Linked DNA regions of Homo sapiens. The protein of the gene in region 2 interacts with the protein of the main gene of each other region in a pairwise test. Each region holds a gene or a part of one and is shown on either strand. Other genes may lie near its edges. The genes, in order: MVP, C1orf94 and CCNJL.

Region 1 (3,651 bases), on a different chromosome or scaffold from region 2:
TGGCTGGAGGAGGTAGGGCCGTATCCCACCCAGAGTCTGTCACCAGATTCATGCCTGCCCCACCCCAGGCTCCCCAGGTTCATCCTGTGTCGTCTCCCCCACCTACCAGTCATCTTCTTGTGAGCCCTGGGCTTAGGAGTCACCATGGCAACTGAAGAGTTCATCATCCGCATCCCCCCATACCACTATATCCATGTGCTGGACCAGAACAGCAACGTGTCCCGTGTGGAGGTCGGGCCAAAGACCTACATCCGGCAGGACAATGAGAGGTGGGTGTGGGGGCTGGGCTGTGGGGGATCCTTGGGGATGTGGGGGCCTGTTTGGCTGGCATGATGGTCCTTATCCTCCTCCCTCTTCCCAAGCAGGAGTGGCCCTCGCTTGGGCGATAGAGAGGTTTCTCTCTCATTTGGTGTCCTCTTTGGTAGTGGAGACCTGGTCCCAGGTCCTCACACCTCTTCTCATCTTCCTGCAGGGTACTGTTTGCCCCCATGCGCATGGTGACCGTCCCCCCACGTCACTACTGCACAGTGGCCAACCCTGTGTCTCGGGATGCCCAGGGCTTGGTGCTGTTTGATGTCACAGGGCAAGTTCGGCTTCGCCACGCTGACCTCGAGATCCGGCTGGCCCAGGACCCCTTCCCCCTGTACCCAGGGGAGGTGCTGGAAAAGGTACCTGGTTTCCTCACTCCCTATGCCCCACCCTACCTGTCCTCCACCTGCCTTGGGCTCTATACTGCTGCCTTCTTCTTCTTTTTTTCTTTTCTTTTTTGAGGCAGAGTTTCACTCTTGTCGCCCAGGCTGGAGTGCAGTGGCATAATCTCGGCTCACTGGAAGCTCCACCTGGGTTCAAGTGATTTTCCTGCCTCAGCTTCCTCAGTAGCTGGGATTACAGGCACCCGCCACCACGCCCGGCTAATTTTTGTATTTTTAGTAGAGACAGGGTTTCACCATGTTGGCCAGTCTGATCTCAAACTCCCGACCCCAGGTGATCCACCTGCCTCGGCCTCCCAAAGTGCTGGGATTACAGGCATGAGCCACTGTTCCCGGCCTGTACCGAGTTCTAAAGGGAAAACAAACCAGGGCAGTGGGAGGGGTGGGGAGAGACACTTGCTGGCTCTCACCAAGGGTGGAATTGACTCACTGTACCTCCACTCACCTCCAGCCACCCCCATCCTCCACACATGCCCCAAACACACCTGCCTCTTTTCTGAGAACTGTTGGCCCATCTCACCTTCCCAGGCTCCAGAGCCTACCAGAAGTGCCCAGCCAGTCTGGCATTAAATGACATGTGCCAAGGTTAAGCAGTTCATTCACCCGGTGCCAGACACTGGTGGGCAGTGCCAAAGCAGCAGTGACAAGCCCAGGCCCCAGGCTGTGCCTGTTCTAGGAGAAGCCATCACAGGCCTGAACCTACAGCCAGGCTCTTGTCCCCGTTGGCCTCAGGCCTGGGCCTGAGCAGGTGGGTGTCCCACCTTCATTCCTTTACCTGTTCTTCCACCTTTACCTTCTGGCCATTTAATGGTTTTGGGTTTTTTGTTTGTTTGTTTGTTTGTTTTTAATAGAGACGGGGTTTCACCGTGTTAGCCAGGATGGTCTTGATCTCCTGACCTCATGATCCGCCCGCCTCGGCCTCCCAAAGTGCTGGGATTACAGGCATGAGCCACCGTGTCCAGCCCCATTTAATGGTTTTCTTACTGACTTTACTAACCAGTGCTGCTTGATCCTGAAAGCATAATAGCAGAACATGGGGAACTTTTAGAGACATTCATGTCCACTTAGGTGCAGACAGTTTGGGGGAAGAAGTGTGTGTGTAGAGAGAAAATGAAGAATGATTAAGACAATAACCCTTAAGGAATCCAAGTGAAAAGTATATAGGGATTCTTGTACCTTTTTTTTTTTTTTTTTTTTTTTGAGATGGAGTCTCACTCTGTTGCCCAGGCTGGAGTACAGTGGCATAATCTCGGCTAACTGGAAGCTCTGCCTCCCAGGTTCACGCAATTCTCCTGCCTCAGCCTCCCGAGTAGCTGGGACTACAGGCGCCCACCACCACACCCGGCTAACTTTTTGTGTTTTTAGTAGAGATGGGGTTTCACCGTGTTAGCCAGGGTGGTCTCGATCTCCTGACGTCATGATCCACCTGCCTTGGCCTCCCAAAGTGCTGGGATTACAGGCGTGAGCCACCGCGCCTGGCCTTTTTTTTTTTTTTTTTTTCTGGATCTCCCCCTGTTGCCTAGACGAGAGTGCAGTGGGGTGATCATAGCTCACTGCAGCCTCAACCTCCTGGGCTCAAACGATCCTTCCACCTCATTCTCCCAAAATGCTGGGATTGCAGGTGTGAGCCACCAAGCCCTGCCTAAGCTTTCATTTTAAATATGTTCAGCCGGGCACAGTGGCTCACGCCTGTAATCCCAGCACTTTGGGAGGCCAAGGTAGGCAGATCACTTGAGGTCAGGAGTTTGAGACCAGGCTGGCCAACATGGCGAAAACCCATCTCTACTAAACATACAACAATTAGCCAGGCGTGGTGGCATGCGCCTGTAATCCCAGCTACTTGGGAGGCTGAGGCATGAGAATTACTTGAACCTGGGAGGCGGAGATTGCAGTGAGCTGAGATTGCGCCACTGCGCTCCAGCCTGGGTGACAGAGCAAGACTCTGTCTCAAAAAAAAAAAAAAAAATTAGCTGGGGGTGGTGACACACCTGTAATCCCAGCCACTCAGGAGGCTGAGACAGAAGGATCACATGAGCCTGGGAGATTGAGACTGTTGTGAGCCATGGTTGTACCACTGCAGTCCAGCCTGGATGACATAGGAAGACCCCATCTCCAAAAATAAAAAAAAGCCAGCTCTTCCTTTGAGCCCCAGTTTCAGTTCAAAGGGCCTTCTCTAACTTCTCCTTCATCTGAACTCCTGAGACAGGGTCTTGCTCTGCTGCCCAGGCTGAAGTGCAGTGGTGCAGTCATAGCTCACTGAAGCCTTAACCTCCTGGGCTCAAGTGATCCTCCCACCTCAGCCTCCCGAGTAGCTGGGACTACAGGTGTGCGCCGCCACCATGCCTGGCTACACTTTTTTTTTTTTTTTTTTTTTTTAGAGATGGGATCTTGCTATGTTGCCCAGGCTGGTTCTTGAATGTCTGAGGTCAAGCAATCCTCCTACCTCAGTCTCCCAAAGTTCTGGGATGACAGGTGTGAGCCACTGTGCCCGGCCTCCACCCCAGTCTTATTTCAGGACATACAGAGATGGATGTTGTGGACCCGCCTCCAGAGCATCAGGCTTGGCCCTGGGGTCACAGCACTGATGGTTCTGTGTCTCCACCTTCTTCCCCACTAGGACATCACACCCCTGCAGGTGGTTCTGCCCAACACTGCCCTCCATCTAAAGGCGCTGCTTGATTTTGAGGATAAAGATGGAGACAAGGTGGTGGCAGGAGATGAGTGGCTTTTCGAGGGACCTGGTAAGTTCTGTCTCCATAGGGCTCCCTGCCTTCCTGTCATAGCCCTGATACCTTCTGACCATCACCTTCCCTCCCCAGGCACGTACATCCCCCGGAAGGAAGTGGAGGTCGTGGAGATCATTCAGGCCACCATCATCAGGCAGAACCAGGCTCTGCGGCTCAGGGCCCGCAAGGAGTGCTGGGACCGGGACGGCAAGGAG
Region 2 (3,651 bases):
TCAGTTTTACTTACTAGAGTTCTGAGTAGGGCTGAATTTGAAAAACATGTTTCTGCTATTGAGAAAAGAGATAGGAAACCAATGACTTAGACGAATAAACGACATCCTAATTGTCAACCAAATAGAACACAATGAGCTATTCTTAAAATAAAGGCGGTGTGCTGGTGGAGTCAGATAACTCTGGTTTCAGATTCCATTTCAGCCCCATGCCATTTGAAGAATTTGTTACTCTTTAATTTATCTAAACTTTGGTTTCCTCATCTGCCAAATGGAGATTAATACTATACATTTTGTAGGGTTGTTGGAATGATTAAATGGGATATTTAAACATTTATGGTAATAATTCAGATTTGTAAAAATTCCTTGCAATTCAGATGTGATCATTTCTTTAAGCTCTACAATTATTGCATGAGGTAGGTACTCTTTTAAACTTTCCATCTCTTTTTACTTTTTATTATGCAAATTTTCAAACACATAGAATAATAATATGGTGAATATCTATGTGTCTATCACTGAGTTTCAATAATTATCACATTGTGCCATTCTGGTTTCAATTGCTACCTCCACCCCTCCATTTATAAGTGAAATTACTTTTACAGATAACGTGGCTGAGGTTTGGAGGGGTTAATTTCTTTGCCCAAGCTCCTACAGTTAGGAAGTAGTAGAGTTTCAGAAATGAAACCCAAGACCGCCTTGGCCCTGAGGCAATAATGTCGGCTGTCCTGTCTTAGAATCTGGGGCATCTTTGAATAGTCAAAATAGTTGGGAGTCCCATATACTGAATGATCACACACAGAGTGAAAAGCCAGGGAGCTGTTCTTACTATTTCTAGAATGCCTTCAGGTGCACAAGATATCTCTCAGCTGGTCTTTCTGCTGCTTAATTTGTAGACCTGGTTTTGGTGGTGTTTTCTTGTATTGTGGTAGATAGGTAAGTGCATTCTACAATTCTTTTTGGCCAGAATTTGTTTTTCTTGACTCTGCACCTATTTATCATAGGAACCTAGACATTTCAAATTTGAAAGAGATTTTTGAAGCCATCTTCCGCTGCTCGAATCCCCTCCTTACTGTCCCTGCCAAGTGGTGCACTTGTACCACTTGGTACAGTTTATCAGATGGGGAGCTTACCACTTCCCTTTGCTGCCCCTTCCCTTGCTATGAACCCCCTCAAAATACCTTTTGCTTTCTATCACTGAAATATGTCTCTATCAAACTAATTCCCATTGATCTGGATTCTGCCCTTAGTACTCCAAGCCAAATCTATGTCTTTTTTCTTTCGATACCCCTTTGGATAGTGAAAGACAGCAAGACAGCAACAATATTCCTCCCAGAATGTTTTTGTCTCTATAAGCTAACCACCTCTGGTTTTCTAAGTTTCTCCCCATGTGCCAATTTGGTTAGTTTCCTGTCCACACTGTTGGTCCTTGTGGCAGTGTAACTTTGAAAGCCAAGTACAATAATCCAGGGGTGATCCAATCCATGCAGATTTGATCCTCCCTGTCTGCATTCTGTTTCCTGTTAATGACAACCAATACTACACTCACTTTTTTCCCCAAGTCGACTTTCACTCTGTGGACACATTTTCAATCTCTTAATTCATTCATTCAATTATTCATTCAACAGATATTTATTAAACATCTACTATATGCTAGAACTGTGTGAGAAACTAGGGGGATGGAGCTGTGAACTCCATTAATCCCTGCCTTCCTAGAGCTCACATTCTAGTATAGGAGAAAAAAGAAGCAAGTAAATACAAAAGCTATGATATCTTCAGAATGTGAAAAGAATGGTATTCCCAGTGGAGGAGACCCATAAGAAACACACAAAAATAAACAAGATAATTTCAGTGACAACTGTGATAATGGAAATAGAGCAGAGGGAAGTGATAGGAAGAGCTCCTTTAGTCTGGGTGTCAAGGAAGGCTTCTCTGAGGAGATGTGATTATCTGGGCTGAGACCTGGGTTCTAAGAAGGAGCCAGTCAAGGGAAGTTCTGGAAAGAACATTTGGGCAAAATGGAGAGCAAGGGCCAGGCATGGTGGCTAAAGCCTGCAATCCCAACACTTTGGGAGGCTGAGGTGGGCAGAACGCTTGAGCCCAGGAGTTCAAGACCAGCCTGGGCAACATGGCAAGACCTCATCTCTACAAAAAATACAAAAATTAGCTGGGCATGGTGGCACACACCTGTAGTTCTAGCTACTCGGGAGGGTGAAGCGAAAGGAACACTTGAGCTCAGGAAAGTCGAGGCTGCAATGAGCCAAGATTGCACTACTGCACTCCAGCCTGGGCGACAGAGTGAGACCCTGTCTCAAAACAAAACCAAAAGGAAAAGCAAATGCAAAGACTGTGAGGTGGGAGTGAGCTTTGAGAGGGACAGCGAGACGGGAGAGTCAGGAGGGATGGGGACATGGCCATGGTATAAGTATAACAGAGACAGGCAGGCAAGGCCTCAGGAGGCCTGGAGGATCACTGCGGGGAGTTCAGATTTTATTCCACATGTTATGGAACACTTTTGCAGGTTTTTAGGAAGGGGTGTGACATGAACAGATTCACTAATGTTTGAATCTCTGTCCAGCTTCTGTGTGGAGATGGTTTGTAAGTGTGTGGGAGAGGAAGTGGGAGGCCTCTGGGAAGATACTGTCAGAGTCCAGGGGAGGCCTAATGGTGGCAGTGGCTGGGTAGGAGTGACTGCAGTAGGGATGGAAAAAGTGGAGGATTCAACTGTGTGTTTTAAGATGAGCCAATGGACCTACTCATGATTTGGGTACACAAACAGACACATTGAGGCTCATGCTCTGCTTCACGCACGAGTTCACTTGACAAACAAGGATGGGGGCATGCATCACTATCAATGTGACTGGGGTGTTGAGACCGAACACTGGCAAACTCAAGGTGGGGAGTGTAGGGCCTCAGAGCAAAGGATTCCAACCTGTGGCCCATGGGGTCTCTGAAGTAATTCCCCAAATGCTGAGAGCTGGGAGGATGTCTTTCCGGCAAAAGGGTGTAGAGAAGCTTTCCTCAGATTTTCAAAGAGGTGTTGACCCCTCCAAGAGGAGAAAACACTAGCCAAGAGCATTAGACTCCAAAGATCTCCAGAGCTGGTTTCTAGTCTAAGACATCAGCCTGAGTTCCATGTCTGAGTCTTGTCTTTATCACTCCCATCACCAAGTTTCAAGCTTTCAAAATAATAATGATAATAAAAGAGGCTATGTATTCCAAGCTTGAGCCCCTGGTTGGACGGTGTGCCATTTACAAAGGTGGGGAAGAAATGGGGAGCAATGGGTTTTGGGGGAGAAATCAATAGTTCTGTCTAGTGCTGATTTAACTCCAAAATCTGGTTCAGTTATCTTTTAGTTAGTCTTAAGTTTGGGCTTAGAGAATTGTGGCAAGCCACTTATTCAAGGATTACTTATTCATTCATTCCCCTAATCTCTAAAACTTCAAAGCCTCAGAATGAGGTCTTTGGATTTGCTGTTGACTCCGTTGCCCTAACTACAGAATGACATTTGTTCATTTCTTCATTCATGAATTCATTCAACAAACACAATTGCCTTCGCAGTACCAGGCTGTATGATGGGTCCCAGGGACACAGAGATAAGCAGAACAGAAGCCTTTCCTCAAAGAGCTCCCAGTCTAGTGGGTGGCATGAACACA
Region 3 (3,651 bases), on a different chromosome or scaffold from region 2:
ATGAGGGCTGGCATTTTGTTTTTCTCAGACAGGGTAATTGTTTTTCTCAAATGTCTACTCTGATAATATGTTTCTAACACTGTAGAACAACTTTACAAGAGCGTGGCACACAGTAGACACTCTTAGTTGAATGTTGCCTGATGAATACAAAGCATGTTTACATATGTGCTGTGTAACTGTTTCCATACAACCACAAGCAATTATCCTCACCTGACCGACACAGGAGGCGAAGTTGAGATCACTGAGACGTTGGGAGCCCCAGTTTGTCAAATATGAGATTCCAGTCTGGCATCATACTACAGGGTATCAAAAACTTGACACCATGGAAACAAGTCTTGGTACTGCATGCACGCTAGTGATGGAAGTGAAACCCTGATCTGCTCATTTAACCTCTCTAAATCTGGCCCCTATCATCCATTCTTCCCAGAATAGCCAGAATTTAGATTGTGTCATTCTCTGCTTAAAGACCTCCAATGTCATCTCACTGCACTTAAAATTCCCAGTCCTTACCACTGCGTGGAATACCCAGCATAGCCTGGCTCTGGCCTGCTCTCTGACCTTGTCTCTTACCCCTTCCCTACCCTCCATGCCATTGCTCTTAAGCCACACTGACCTCCTTTCTGTTCCTGGAACAAGTCAAGCTTGTTCATGTCTCAGGGTCTTTGCACTGGCTCTTTCCTCTATTTGGATTCTGTGTTTCTCAGACTCTCACATGGTTGCTTGTCTCCCTTAATCTATTGCTGCCTCTCCATGTCACTCTATTAAATCACCTTGCTTTTTCTTTGTAGCATTTACCAGGATCTGAAGTGTTTTTCTGTTTTTTGTTTGTTTGGTTGGTTGGTTTCTTTGAGACGGAGTCTCACTCTGTCGCACAGGCTAGAGTGCAGTGGCACTATCAGCTCAGTGCAACCTCCGCCTCCCGGGTTCACACCATTCTCCTGCCTCAGCCTCCTGAGTAGCTGGGATTACAGGCATGTGCCACCACACCCAGCTAATTTTCGTATTTTTAGTAGAGACGGGGTTTCACCTGTTGGTCAGGCTGGTCTCGAAGAACCCCTGACCTCGTTATCCGTCAGCCTCGGCCTCCCAAAGTCCTGGGATTACAGGCGTGAGCCACCGTGCCTGGCCTGAAGTTATTTTTCGTTTGTTTGCTGCCTTTCTTCCCACACTAGAATACATGCTACACGAGAAGAGACCTGTGTCTGTCTTCTTCCTTGCGGGGGCCTCAGTGCCATGAACACAGCTTCCCGATGTGTATGGAATGACAAGGAGAATGAATAAGTCAGTCTTCGCTTTCCTCTTCTGTAAGCTGGGAGAAACGTTTTACAGCAATGTTAAGATTAAGTGAGATAACTTAAGAACAGTGTGAGGTGCATGGTGGGTACTTGGCAGGCATTGCACCTCTCCACTTAGGGTTGCTGCAAGACAGTGATGGCCCGTTCACATAGTGCTGCTCAGAGTAAGGCTTAGGGTTTGTGACCACCCTCCAAGGGGTCCACAGATGTGATGGGTAATCCTTGTAAGAAAGGCACTGTTAGCCACTTGGACCATTGGTCCTATGATGGTGTTGAAGTCAGGAAAGGGACTAGTTCACCAAAAATCATGTATCTACTGAGGGCTGGGAACCAGGAGTGAGACCCCATTGGTAAGACCCTCTAAGCAGCCTGGCATCCCAATGGGTGAATGTGGGGAGTTGAACCCTCCTCCAGCCCAAATTGCTCTGGAGAAATCTCTCCCTCCCCTTCCTGTAGGCCACCTTTATCCCATGCTCAGCCCTTAAATTCCTCCTTGGATCCTTCTTCCTGTCCCTGCTGCATCTGCAGAAGCCCACCTAGGACCCCGCTCCCTTCAGCTCCTCTGACCTTTCTGCTGGGGGTGGGAGTGCCAGCCAGTACAGGGATGTGGGGTTTCTTGCCTGCTACGTGTGCCCCTTGACCCTCTTCCCTGAACCAAAAGGAGGAGTAGATTGTCACCAGGCTGGCGTCACCAGTGAGGAGGCTGCTAGTGATGTTTTTCTGGTAACCAAGTCTGTGCCAGGTCTGTCCAGATTAAAACTCGGGGCCATTTGTTTTTTTCTTGAAAGATGCATCCACCTAAGTTTAAAATTAATAGGGTGTTGAATCCAAGAACTAACAGATTTTGGTGAGTGCTGGTTACACATGATGGAACGAGAGCATTGGATGGTATGCAGCTTGAGGGCCACGTTCCTTGTCCCTTAAGCCTCTCCTTTGTCATGTGTCCTGGCCCCACCCTCATCCTTGCTTCTTTCACCATCTTTGTCACCCTGCATAGTGACTTGTCCTACCCACTAGACTGTGAGCTCCTTGCAGGTATGAGGTGTGCCTTGTTACCTTGGCATTCCCAGACCAGTGTCTGAGTCAGAGAGGGACCTCAGGGTGTCCCCCACCTCACCTGATGCAGGCACAGGCATTGGGAGTGCACAAAAGAGTGAGACAGCCCCAAATGGACTCTTCTGGGAAATGTTGAATGAATGCTTGTGTGCAGGGATGCTTCCTGGGAATCCTTCATCTCGTCTTCGGCATCTGCCAGGACAGTCTTTGTGTGTGTGGGCACAGCATTGACTGTGGTGCCCAGCACAGGATCTGGTTGATGGAGGATGCCACCCCAGCTTCCTACAGACCTGCATGTTCTCCTGTCAGGTAACATGGGGCAGGAAGTTAGAAAAGCAATTACCTGCAAGGGCAGATTTACTGGCCTGGACCAAAGTACAGCTTAAGGATCTTAGGAAAATAACTGCAGGTTGCGCCCAGATAACAGAAATGTAGATAATTCCTCCCAGACTTCTAACAGGAGGTCCTGTTTTTCTTCCTGAATTTTCTGAGCAGCAAAGTAGATAGAACTTGCACTCGTCTCCTTTTGATTTATGCCCATTTTACACATAGTCTTCCCTCTCCAATTAGAAGGAAATAGTTATGTTAGTAAGCAAAGACACACACCACTGTGACTTAAGGCTTCATGAGTGTGTAGAAGACTTTCTGAATACAGGGATTTCTGGAGTTCTTAGGGGAAAAAAATCTCCCTCCCAAAGCCATGTTGATAAGCTCTGCTTGACATGAGCTGGTAACTTTATCTTCCTGGGCTCCAGGGAGCCAGGGGCTAGGGGCTCCCTCCTTCTCGTCCACTGGGTGTTTACCTTCTCCCAAGACGGGAGTCATGTGATACCTTAGGGGTCTTCTCATCCTGCTCCAGACTTGAGATCTGCAGGGCAACCAGCCACCTAATGCATTTTTTCCCACTTCCTGAAGCTTACTTCATTGCACACTCAGAGGACTTCAGCTCTGTGAGACCGCTTTTTTTTTTTTTTTTTTTTTTGAGACGGAGTCTTGCTCTGTCACCCAAGCTGGAGAGCAGTGGCATGATTTTGGCTTACTGCAACCACTGCCTCCTGGGTTCAAGTGATTCCCCTGCCTCAGCCTCCCGAGTAGCTAGGATTACAGGCGCACACCACACCCAGCTAACTTTTGTATTTTTAGTAGAGGCGGGGTTTCACCATGTTGGCCAGGCTGGTCTCTAACTCCTGACCTCAGGTGATCCGCCCGCCTTGGCCTCTCAGAGTGCTGGGATCACAGGCGTGAGCCACTGTTCCCGGCCACATTTCTTAAACCAGTGGACAGATAAAAGATGTTTGAT

What was found.
Region 1: the proteins of C1orf94 (region 2) and MVP interact in a two-hybrid assay, tested with the Homo sapiens proteins (one large-scale study listed by BioGRID).
Region 3: the proteins of C1orf94 (region 2) and CCNJL interact in binary tests that used the Homo sapiens proteins (3 or more experiments, as listed by UniProt).

The regions. Positions count from the first base shown.
Region 1 is NC_000016.10:29,830,406-29,834,056, forward strand, and holds part of MVP (major vault protein), read left to right. Parts: intron 1-68; exon of another isoform or gene 69-109; 5' UTR 110-144; coding exon 145-269; intron 270-472; coding exon 473-668; intron 669-3,327; coding exon 3,328-3,451; intron 3,452-3,529; coding exon 3,530-3,651. UniProt on the Homo sapiens protein: Required for normal vault structure. Vaults are multi-subunit structures that may act as scaffolds for proteins involved in signal transduction. Vaults may also play a role in nucleo-cytoplasmic transport.
Region 2 is NC_000001.11:34,179,888-34,183,538, forward strand, and holds part of C1orf94 (uncharacterized protein C1orf94), read left to right. Parts: intron 1-3,651.
Region 3 is NC_000005.10:160,305,953-160,309,603, reverse strand, and holds part of CCNJL (cyclin-J-like protein), read left to right. Parts: intron 1-3,651.